2 separate regions of the Homo sapiens genome follow, and region 1 is linked to region 2. Evidence: fine-mapped expression QTL. A gene starts in region 2. The other region holds a variant in brackets. All regions are shown on one strand. Distances are from middle to middle.

The links. PIP is the estimated chance that this variant, and not a neighbour inherited with it, causes the effect.
Region 1: its variant is the best candidate, but not a certain one, in a credible set for the expression of CUZD1 in whole blood (TOPMed, PIP 0.89).

The regions. Positions count from the first base shown.
Region 1 is chr10:122,889,310-122,894,692 of GRCh38, reverse strand. It overlaps the pseudogene C10orf88B. Among named protein-coding and RNA genes, the nearest start is that of FAM24B-CUZD1, 12 kb to the right of the region's middle. The variant T/AT (reference allele first, on the strand shown) is at 2,751.
Region 2 is chr10:122,843,530-122,848,912 of GRCh38, reverse strand. CUZD1 (CUB and zona pellucida like domains 1) reads left to right here and starts at 3,056. Exons shown (of 9, transcript NM_022034.6): 1 at 3,056-3,151. The coding sequence starts at 3,070. FAM24B-CUZD1 (FAM24B-CUZD1 readthrough) reads left to right here. Exons shown (of 11, transcript NR_037915.1): 3 at 2,693-3,151. RefSeq lists enhancers at 1,319-2,200, 2,267-2,766, 2,767-3,268.

The sequences.
Region 1 (5,383 bases), 46 kb before region 2:
TCTGCAGGTAAATCTTTAAATCTTTAGTTTCTTGTTTATCCACTTTGAATCTGCTTTCCCTTTGCTCCCCTTTTCCCTTTTATTTGCACTTTTTTTGTCTGAGGATGATTCTTCCTTGCTGCCTCTTTTGGTTTTGTTTTCACTTTTGCTGGAGCAGGTTTATCTGACAACCTCATGGGCCTCCTCTTGGGCCCTTCCTTCACTGCCCCTTCAGCTGGGCTGAGCTTCCTCTGGTGCCTGAGGGCTGAAGTGCACCATGAGCCTTCATGAAGCTGGGCTGCTGGACTGCCTGCACACTGCCACTTGTCCTGCCACCTGAGCTTTTATTTTAGCTGTTCAAATAGGTGTGCTGCGATATCTCATCACGGTCTTATTTTGAATTTCCTAATGGATAGTAATGTTGAATATCTTTTCATGTTCATATGCTGTTTGCATATTCTCTTTGGTGAAATATCTCCTGTCTCGCCCATGTTCTAAATTGATTTTTTTTTAACTGTTGAGTTTTGAGAGTTCTTAATATATCCTAGGTATGAGTCATCTGTCATACCTAGGTTTGCAAATAATATATTCTCCCATCTGTAGCTTGTATTTTCATCCTCTTAACTGAGTCAGAGGGCAGAATTTTTTATCTTTAATGAAGTCAAATTTATTAATTTTATTTTATCGATTGTACTTTTGGTGTCATGTTTAAGTACTTTTCTGCAATTCTTAGTTGCTAAAGATTTTCTCCAGTTTCCATCCAAAAGATCATTTAAATCTATGACCCATGTTGAGTTAATTTTTGTGTTGGATGTGAAGTTTAGGTGAAAGAATTTGGATATCTAATTGCTCTAGCACCATTTTTGGAAAGTGCTATCCTTTCTGCACCACCCCCCCACTCCTTTTTTTTGTAACAGACTCTCACTCTGTTGCTGAGGCTGAAGGGCAGTGGTACGATCTCAGCTCACCACAGCCTCGACTTCTTGGGCTCAAGTGATCCTCCCACCTCAGCTTCCCAAATAGCTGGGACTACAGGCATGCGCCGCCATGCCTGGCTAATTTTCATATTTTTTTGTAGAGACAGGGCTTTGCCATGTTGCCCAGAGTAGTCTTGAAATGCTAGGCTCAAGTGATCTGCCCGCCTTGGCCTCCCAAAGTGCTGGGATTATAGGTGTGAGCCACCACCCCTGGCCAGTTTTGCACCTTTATCAAAAATCAATTGAGCATATTTGTGAGGGTCTATTTCTGGCCCTCTATTATGTTCCATTGATTTATATTTCAATCCCCACATAATACTAAACAGTATTGGATACTCTACACTGGGAAGAGTGATTCCCAATCATTTAATTCTTTTTTTGAAAGTTGTTTTAGGCTGAGCGTTTAATCCCAGTACTTTGGGAGGCCAAGGCAGGCGGATTACTTGAGGCCAGGAATTCAAGACCAGCCTGGCCAACATGGTGAAACCCCATCTCTACAAAAAATGCAAAAAATAGTCAGGCGTTGTGGCGGGCGCCTATAGTCCCAGCTACTCGGGAGGCTAAGGCATGAGAATTGCTTGAACCCAGGAGGTGGAGGTTGCAGGAAGCCGAGATTGCACCATTGCACTCCAGTCTGGGTGACAGAGCAAGACTCCATCTCAAAAAAAAAAAAAAAAAGAAAAGAAAAAAGAAAAACAAGTTGTTTTAGCCATTCTACTACTTTTGCCTTCTCATATAATTTTAAAAAGCCTTGTTTTTGTCTACAAAAAGTCTTGGTGGGATTTTGATACAAATTACATTAAGCCTGCATATCAATAGGGAGAACTAACAATTTTACTATGTTGAGTCACCAAGCCATAAACAGGGTATGTCCCTCAATTAGATCTTCTCCGATTTCTTTCATCAGCATTTTACAATTTTCAGCATATATATCCTGTACATGTTTTGTTAGATTCATACCTAAGTATTTAGTTTTCTTTGGAGCAACTATAAATAGTATAGTGAGTGTGTCTCTTTTAAGTTGAAAAGCTTACTTTTATTCTTACAATTTTCTACTAGGAAGCCAACATTTAATTTAATAATTCATTGTTGACAGGTGAGTTATAAAAAGAAATTGTTTTTAATTTTGGTTTCCACACATCATCATTTGTACAGTTAAGCCTCAGTATTTGTGGGAGACTGGTTCCAGGACCTCCCTCCCCAAACCCACCCTTGTGGATACCAAAATCTGCAGATGCTTAAGTCCCTTATATAAGATGACAATACTTAATAAAAGTAAATTCTATGTAAATACTTGTTATACTGTATTACTTAGACAATAAGGACAGGAAAAAAGTCTACATGTTCAGCACAGACACAATTATTTTTTCTCTATTTCTGATCCACAGTGGGTTTAATCCATGATGCAAAAGCCATGGATATGGAGGGCCAACTGAATATAGATAAGCAACTAATTTTGATCTTTCATCCTGTGACTTTTGCTGAACTCATTTATCAGTTCTAAACCTTTTTTAAAAAAATATTCCTTGGGATATTCTACATAGACCATCTTGTCATCTGTAAATAAGGACAGTTTTCTTTCATTGCAATCTATATTTAATTTTTGTTGTCTTACTGCAGTGGCTATAACTTCCAGTACTATGTTGAGTAAGAGTGGTGACGGCTGGGTACGGTGGCTCATGACTGTAATTCCAGCAATTTGGGAGGCTGAGGCAGGTGGATCACGAGGTCAGGAGATCAAGACCATCCTGCCTAACATGGTGAAACCCTGTCTCTACTAAAAATACAAAAAAA[T/AT]TAGCCAGGCATGGTGGCGGGCACCTGTAGTCCCAGCTACTCAGGAGACTGAGGCAGGAAAATGGCATGAACCCAGGAGGCAGAGCTTGCAGTGAGCCGAGATCATGCCATCGCACTCCAGCCTGGGCGACAGAGCAAGACTCTGTCTCAAAAAAAAAACAAAAACAAAAACAAAAACAAAATAAACCCAGTGGTGGGAAAGGACATCCTTGCCTTATTTTTCACTTAGGAGGGACGCATTCAGTCTTTCACCATTAAGTATTATGTTAGCTATAGGTTTCTTGTAGATATCCTTTATGAAGTTGAGGCAGCTCCTCTCAATTTCTAGTTTTCTGAGTTTCTTTCATCATAGATTGGTGTTAGAATTTTAAAAATACTTTTCTGTGTTAATTTATATAGTCATATGAATTTTCTTCTAGTCCGCTGAAATGGTAGATTACATTAACTTTCGAAATGGCTGAAATGGAGTGTTTTACAAATGTCAAATAGATCCTGATGACTGATAGTGTGCTATTCAGTTCTATATCTTTCCTATAATTTTGTCTAACAGTTCTATCAATAACTGAGCGTGGGGTGTTAGGTATTCAACTATAATTATGGTTATGTCCATTGATCCTTTTGTATCTATCAGTTTTCTGCTTCATGTAGTTTGAACCTCTGTTTACTGCATACCCATTTAGGATCACTATGTCATTGTCTTTTTATTATTATGTAATGTCCCTCTTTTTATCTAGTGAATTTCTTTGCTCTGAAGCCTGCTTCACCTGATACTAATATACGACTTCTGCTTTTTAAAAAATTAATGTTTTCATGGCATATCTTCCTACTTTTGACCTACCTACGTCATTATATTTGAAAAGTGTGTTTTGTCAACTGCATATAGTTGGGTTGTATTTTATAACCCATTCTATACATTTCTTTTAATTGGTGAATCTAGCCATTTATATTTATAGTAATTATTAAAATATAATTATCTTAGATACTTCCTCTACATATATTAAGTACCACATCATATGGTGTTATAACTTTTACTTCAACCATCAAATATGATTTAAGAGACTTATGAGAAGGATAGCCTGTCATATTTACCTCTGTTTTTATCCATTCCATTGATCTTTCTTCCTTTCTGAAGTTCTAAGCATTCTTTTGTCATCATTTCCTTGGATAACTTGCTTTATCCATTCTTTAAGGGTAGGCCTGCCAGTGCAAAATAATCTGTTTTCATTTATTTGAGACTGTCTTTACTTGCTGTTTGTTCCTAACGGATATTTTTGCTGGATATACAATTTGTGACTCACAGTTCTTTTACAGCACTTGAAAAATGTGCCTCTTCTTATTGGCCACCATAATTTCAGATGAGAAATCAGCTGTCAACAAACTTGGTATTTCTCTATGAGAATATGTTGTTTCTCTCCAGCTTTCTTTTAGAATTTATTTTTTATTTTTTCATTTTCAAAAAATTATGATATGACTTGGCATAGACGTATTTGAATTTATCCTGTGTAGGACTTACTCAGCTTCTTGAATCTGTGAGTTCACGCCTTTCCCCATTTCAGCTTTGGGGAAACTTCAACCATTATTTCTTCAGATATTTTTTCAGCTCCAAACTCTCCCTTCCTCTCCTTATAACACCCCAGCTAGAAAATTAAAGTATCGTCTGATTTTGTGGGGCAGTGGTGACATCACCCTGGTAGAACTGAAGTACTGCTTGTTTCAGCTGAGCAGGGGCTGGAAGTTTAGCTTCTACTCGGCTCTGTTGATACCACCCAGTAGCAGAATTGGAATGCTGCCCACTTCTTCTGACTGAGAGATGGAAGAACAGCTCACCATTTAGCTTGCTGATACCACCCCAGTAGAGAAACCAGAGTACAACTGCCTCATTCAACAGGGCAGGCAGGAGGGCAGTATTTCCATTGGTGTTTGACTGGAGTAGACAAGTATTATTGAAAGGTTTTGTTTTGTTAGGACTCCCTTTTCCTGGTCCTTTGGTTAGAAGGAATAGGCTTTTCTTGAAGCTCTTAATTTTTGTCCCCACTGGTTGTCCCAGGTTGCAGACTTCTTTGGCACCCCATCCAAGATATATGGAAGGCAGAAAAACTCAACATTGCATTGCTCCTCAAATCCCACAGTCCCTAAGAGTCTGACTTCTTTCTACCTTTAACAGTCCTTGTATGTTTCTTCGTTGTGCTATGTCCAAGGATTTTTATTTGTAAAATGAGGATCTGAGAGGAATGGCAATGTTCTATCTCAGCTGGACCCAGAAGTGTCCCAAGCAGTTTTTGAATCCCTGTATACTGTATAGTCTTTTGATTTTTTTTTTGCCATTACACATAACAACTAGTTATCATTGATACAGACTATCAACAATTGAAGACTATGCCATCTCATATAACAAGTAATTATCATTGATGTAGACCGCCAATTATTGAACACTAATGTTATCTTTCTATATCCTAAGAACCACCTTTATTTAAATAAATTAAATTCTTAAAACTTTAACACTGTTGGAAACCTTAAACAAATCTCAACCAATACAAATATCTAACTTTACACATTGAAAAAAAAAATCAAAAGATTTAACCAGTAAGGCAAAATAGTTAAGCCAGGTCTCTGACTGAGTCCTGAATTCTAGC
Region 2 (5,383 bases):
AGGACACTTCCAATTTCAGCCCAGCTGATCTTGTCCAGCTGGAGTCGCTCGTTTAGCTCTCGTGAGGGCTTGGATGGTTGACATCCACCGCAGAAAATGGTGTCATGTCCTGATACCTGTCCTGTTGTCCTGTCCATTTATCCAAGACAGTGAGAGGAGCCAGGCAGGACCTCCCTGTGTTAAAGTTGTCTGACCTGTGTAAGATAGGCCTGAGCTCAGTGACCTCAAAAGGACCTTTTGAAAACCAGTTTCTTCCTACTGCAATCCCCAAATCTCCAGAGCATGTGGCTCCTGCGTGGATTACGGTAACAGTGATGTGTGTTGATCCAGCCATCAACATCTTCAACTGTAACACGAACCACCAGCCAAAGGCCAAAGCCCAGACTCCCTGACCACAACAGCAGGTGGCAGGAAGCACTCCTCCCCACTTTACTCCCAGCTGCCTTCTGTTCCAGCTCCTGCCCCTGAGCCTCCTGGAACCCCTTTCTAAGCATGATTCCCTATCTGTAACCGCCATGTCCACTCCTCTCATGAACTAAACCCTTGCTTGTGACCATCACATGTATACTGAATGTAAAGAATTATTAGCTAGTAACAGGTGGTAATCTACTAAAAGGGGGTAAAAAGGAAAACAGAAGTCGCAAATGAAGGAAACAGCTGTGACAGCTAGGCACAGAAACAGGCCAGATGTGGGTGGAGGAGCTGCCTGTAGACGCCGAGCACCTCCTGGAGGCTGAGCCTCCAGCCCCAGCATGCTTGGGAAGAGGCCAAGTCAGGGCAGCCTCCAGCTGGAGGTCACCTGTCCCCCTTAAGTTTCCGGGCACTGTCTCTGTCCCCTGCCTTTGATTTTCTCTTGTCACCAGCCAGCTCTGACAGATGGAGCACATACAAATCCCCTCTTACCCCACCCAGTGGGTGGCCCAGTGCCTGGATCCAGGACGCCTGTGCCAGGGCCTCCCCATGTGGGTGACTATACCTGGTGCAGGTATTGCGGGGGCCGTGAGGGAGGTGGGACAAAGGTCTTCAGGACACCCCCATTAGCAGGAGGACAGAGCACCGCACATGGGCTTTAGAGCCCTATGGAGCCGGTTCCCATCCCAATTCGGCCTTCACCAGGGGAAGTCCCTTGACTCATCTGAGCCTCTGTGTCCTTGATGTGAAGTGCGGACTTGCACAGGTGACAGAGAAGAAGCAATGAGATGATGCAGGGTGACCCCACAGCACCCCGTGGTCCCCAGGAAGTTGCCAGAGGCCTGAAGGGGGCTTCTCTCCTGACTGGATCTGGAAGCCTGGGTCCTTTGCCAGGGCCACCTAACAGAGTGTGGCCATGAAACTCTCGCACTCAGTGGAGATGGATTAGGGATGTTGGAGATCCCAGCCATGGGTGACAAAGAGGGGTTCAGAGGGAAAGCCCAGGGTGGGAGTGGGTATCCATGGACACAGCTGCAAGCGCTTAGTAACCAGAAGGGTCCCCCATCTCAAACACCTGTGGCCTGCTAACTCACCCCAGGACACCCAGTCCTGCCTCATCCACAGCCAGCCCGGGCAGATAGGAATGGAGCAGAGCAAGGCAGGGGCCTTGGGGTATGTCCAAGCTCCTCCTGAGCATCCCAGGTGCTGCCTTTCCCCTGCAAGGGTCCAACGAGGAATGGATCCCCTGGGTCACAACGTAGGACTGTGCTCTCCCTAGGGAGGCCTCCTGGGCTGCAGCACAGTCAGAACAACACAGAGGGGCTGACGGTAGCCAGAGGGTTTCACCCTAGGAGACTTAGCCTACACGAGCGTCAGACCTCCCCAGAGCTGCACAAAGGTTCTTCAGAAAGTAGCCAGTCCTGGCATTGTCCACTCAATATGTTCCACCTGAACTTAGAGTGAAAACCAGACTCATTTGCCCTATGGGTCCTTCCCCATCTGACCTTCACCTGCTCCTCTCCATCCTCCCCTCCCAGCTCACTCCTCCCACTCATGACCAGCCAGGCTGTTCTTTATTCCCTACTATTGTAGGTGTGCCCACCTGGTCTCTGCCTCGGGGCCTGTGCACTTGCCCTCTCTTTTGCCTAAGATGCAGCCCCCAAGCTCAGATCACCCATGAATGCCTCCCTCTTGTCTTTCTGCCTTTGTTCAGATTTCATCTCTCAAGATGCCCTCCTTCTCACTGTCATATTTCCTCCCCACCCCAAGGCAACCACCATCTATGCAGTCATCCTGTTTATTGTATCCTTAGCTCCTCTCACCAGTTGAATTCTTCATTTATTTTTGTTGTTTAACTCTCCACTTAGAATACAAGTTTCATGAGGGCAGGACTGTGTCTCTCACATTCAATTCTATATTGCTTAGGCCCTAGATCAATAAGTAATGTTTACTGACTGAATGAATGAAAAGAGGGCAGCCCCCACCCACCACCACTTGCTCCTCCCAATCTCAATGTGGACACTAGGATTTCTTTCTCTCAACTGCAAAACACCGTGCCCGAGAGACTAATTCACCTGCTTCAGTCTCTCCAGACATAACTGGTTAGAAATCGCTGTGGGGGAATCTGGATCTGCACTCTTTTTCTCTTCATCCTCTACCCTCTTCCCCTCCCCCACAGGGTCAGCCACCTGGCAGGGCATCTGAATGTCCCAGCTGGACCCAGATTTTGCCCAGGTGCTGCACCCCCTGCCTTGCCCCACAGGCCTTTGTTCTCCCACAGGCTCCCTTCTCAAAGCAGAGCCCTGAAGACTTCAATGATGTCAATGAGGCCACCTGTTTGTGATGTGCAGGCACAGAAGAAAGGCACAGCTCCCCATCAGTTTCATGGAAAATAACTCAGTGCCTGCTGGGAACCAGCTGCTGGAGATCCCTACAGAGAGCTTCCACTGGGGGCAACCCTTCCAGGAAGGAGTTGGGGAGAGAGAACCCTCACTGTGGGGAATGCTGATAAACCAGTCACACAGCTGCTCTATTCTCACACAAATCTACCCCTTGCGTGGCTGGAACTGACGTTTCCCTGGAGGTGTCCAGAAAGCTGATGTAACACAGAGCCTATAAAAGCTGTCGGTCCTTAAGGCTGCCCAGCGCCTTGCCAAAATGGAGCTTGTAAGAAGGCTCATGCCATTGACCCTCTTAATTCTCTCCTGTTTGGCGGAGCTGACAATGGCGGAGGCTGAAGGTAAGAAAATTGAACCAGATTTATTCACCAAAACAGAGAAGTTCTTCTCTTAAGAGGCCTCTTTCAAAATTTTTCAAAGTGTTTATATCTGTTGGCCCCAGTTCAGAGAAAAATGTACTCTAATGCTCTTGGAGGGGATTTTAAATTAGTTCTAATTTTATTTGGCTCATCTGACAATGTCCATAAAAATATCAAAAGTGTATAGAATTTTACTGAGTAATTTACTGCTAAGAGTTTATGTTTTGGAAATAAGCATAAAAGTGTCCAAAGATATATGTATAAATATGTGCACTTACATAATTGTAAACTACAACATGAATTTTCATTATTTCTTACGGTAAATCCATAAAATGGAACACTCTTTTTTGCAACTTAAAAAAAAATGATGGCTGGGGGCGGTGGCTCACGCCTGTAATCCCAGCACTTTGGGAGGCCAAGGTGGGTGGATCACGAGGTCAGGAGTTCGAGACCAGCCTGGCCAACATGGTGAAACCCCATCTCTACTAAAAATACAAAAATTAGCCAGGTGTGGTGATGCGTGCCTGTAGTCCCAGCTACTCGGGAGGCTGAGGCAGGAGAATCGCTTGAACCCGAGAGGTGGAGGTTGCAGTTAGCTGCGATCATGCCACTGCACTCCAGCCTGGGTGACAGAGCAAGACTCCGTCTCATAAAAAAAAAAAAAAAAGACTCTGATCTATAATGTGTCCATAGACCACATTAAGAGAAAAAAGAGATCTGAAGTTTGTGTACAATATGATGGTTCTTATGTTTGAAATATATACATTCAAGCATTTTAAATGTCTAGAAATAGAAGAGGAAAGGAAAAGGAGTGGAAGAATTTACACCAAGGTTTTAGTGATGATTGTTTCTGGATGGATGGGGTTATGGGAGTATATGGGAGAATAAATAAAAATAAAGCTTTGTTCCTATGTAGGTGGGGTTTTTGACCATTAGTCAAAATCTTGGTGGGATTTTGAATTAGTACTAATTTTATTTGGGCCCATCTGACAACATACATAAAAATATAAGAATTTACCAAATAATTTTTAAAAATTTTATAGAAAAAAATTTTCACTATGTTGCCCAGGCTGGTCTCGAACTCCTGAGCTCAAGTGATCCACCCGCTTTGGCCTCCCAAAGTGCTGGGATTACAGGTGTGAGTCACCACGCCCAGCCCCTTACCGGGTAATTTCACTGCTAACAGCTTATCTTTAGGATCCAGTTATTTTTCCTCTTCCCCTTTTCTCTTTCTTCTCTTCTTTCTCCTTTTTAATAACAGCTTTATTAAGATATGATTAACATACCATAAAATCCACCATTTTAAAGTATACAATTTAGTGTTTTTTAGTATATACACAGAATTGTGCAACAATCACCACTATCTAATTCCAGAACATATTCTTCACCCCCAAAAGAAACTGTCTCAGGCTCAGCATGATGGCTCAAGCCTACAATCCCAGCACTTTGGGGGGCTGACATGGGAGCATTGCTTGAGGCTGAGAGTTTGAGACCACCCTGAACGACGTAGTGAGACCTCGACTCTACAAAATTAAAAAAAAAATTTTTTTAGCCAGGCATGGTGGTACATGACTGTAGTCCCAGCTACTCTGGCGGCTGAGGTGGGAGGATCACTTGAGCCCAGTAGTTTGAGGCTGCAGTAAGCTATGATTGTGCCATCTCAATCCAGTATAGGTAACAGAGTGAGACTCTGTCTGTCCCTCTCTCTATATATATATATATTTATATATAGTCTCTCTATATATATAGTCTCTCTATAGTCTATATATAGTCTTTATATAGTCTATATATATAGTCTCTATATATAGACCAATGTTTTATATATATATAAATATATCTAACAATATATATAACTGTATATTATATATAGACTAATGTGATGAATATTAGTGTACAAGTTTCTGTGTGGACATATATATATATATATATATATGTATGTATATATATGTATGAAGAAAGTCTGTATTCACTACCATTCACTCTCCATTTCTCCTGATGTCTCCAGCACAAGGAAACCACTACTCTACTTTCTGTCTCTATAAATTTACTTATTCTGGATATTTCACATAAATGAAATCATGTAATATGTGGTATTTCACTTAGCATAATATTTTCAAGGTTCGTATGTATTGTAGCATGTATCAGTACAATCAGCCCTCAGTACCTGTGGGTTCAGCATTCATGGATTCAACCAACCATGAATTGAAAACATTT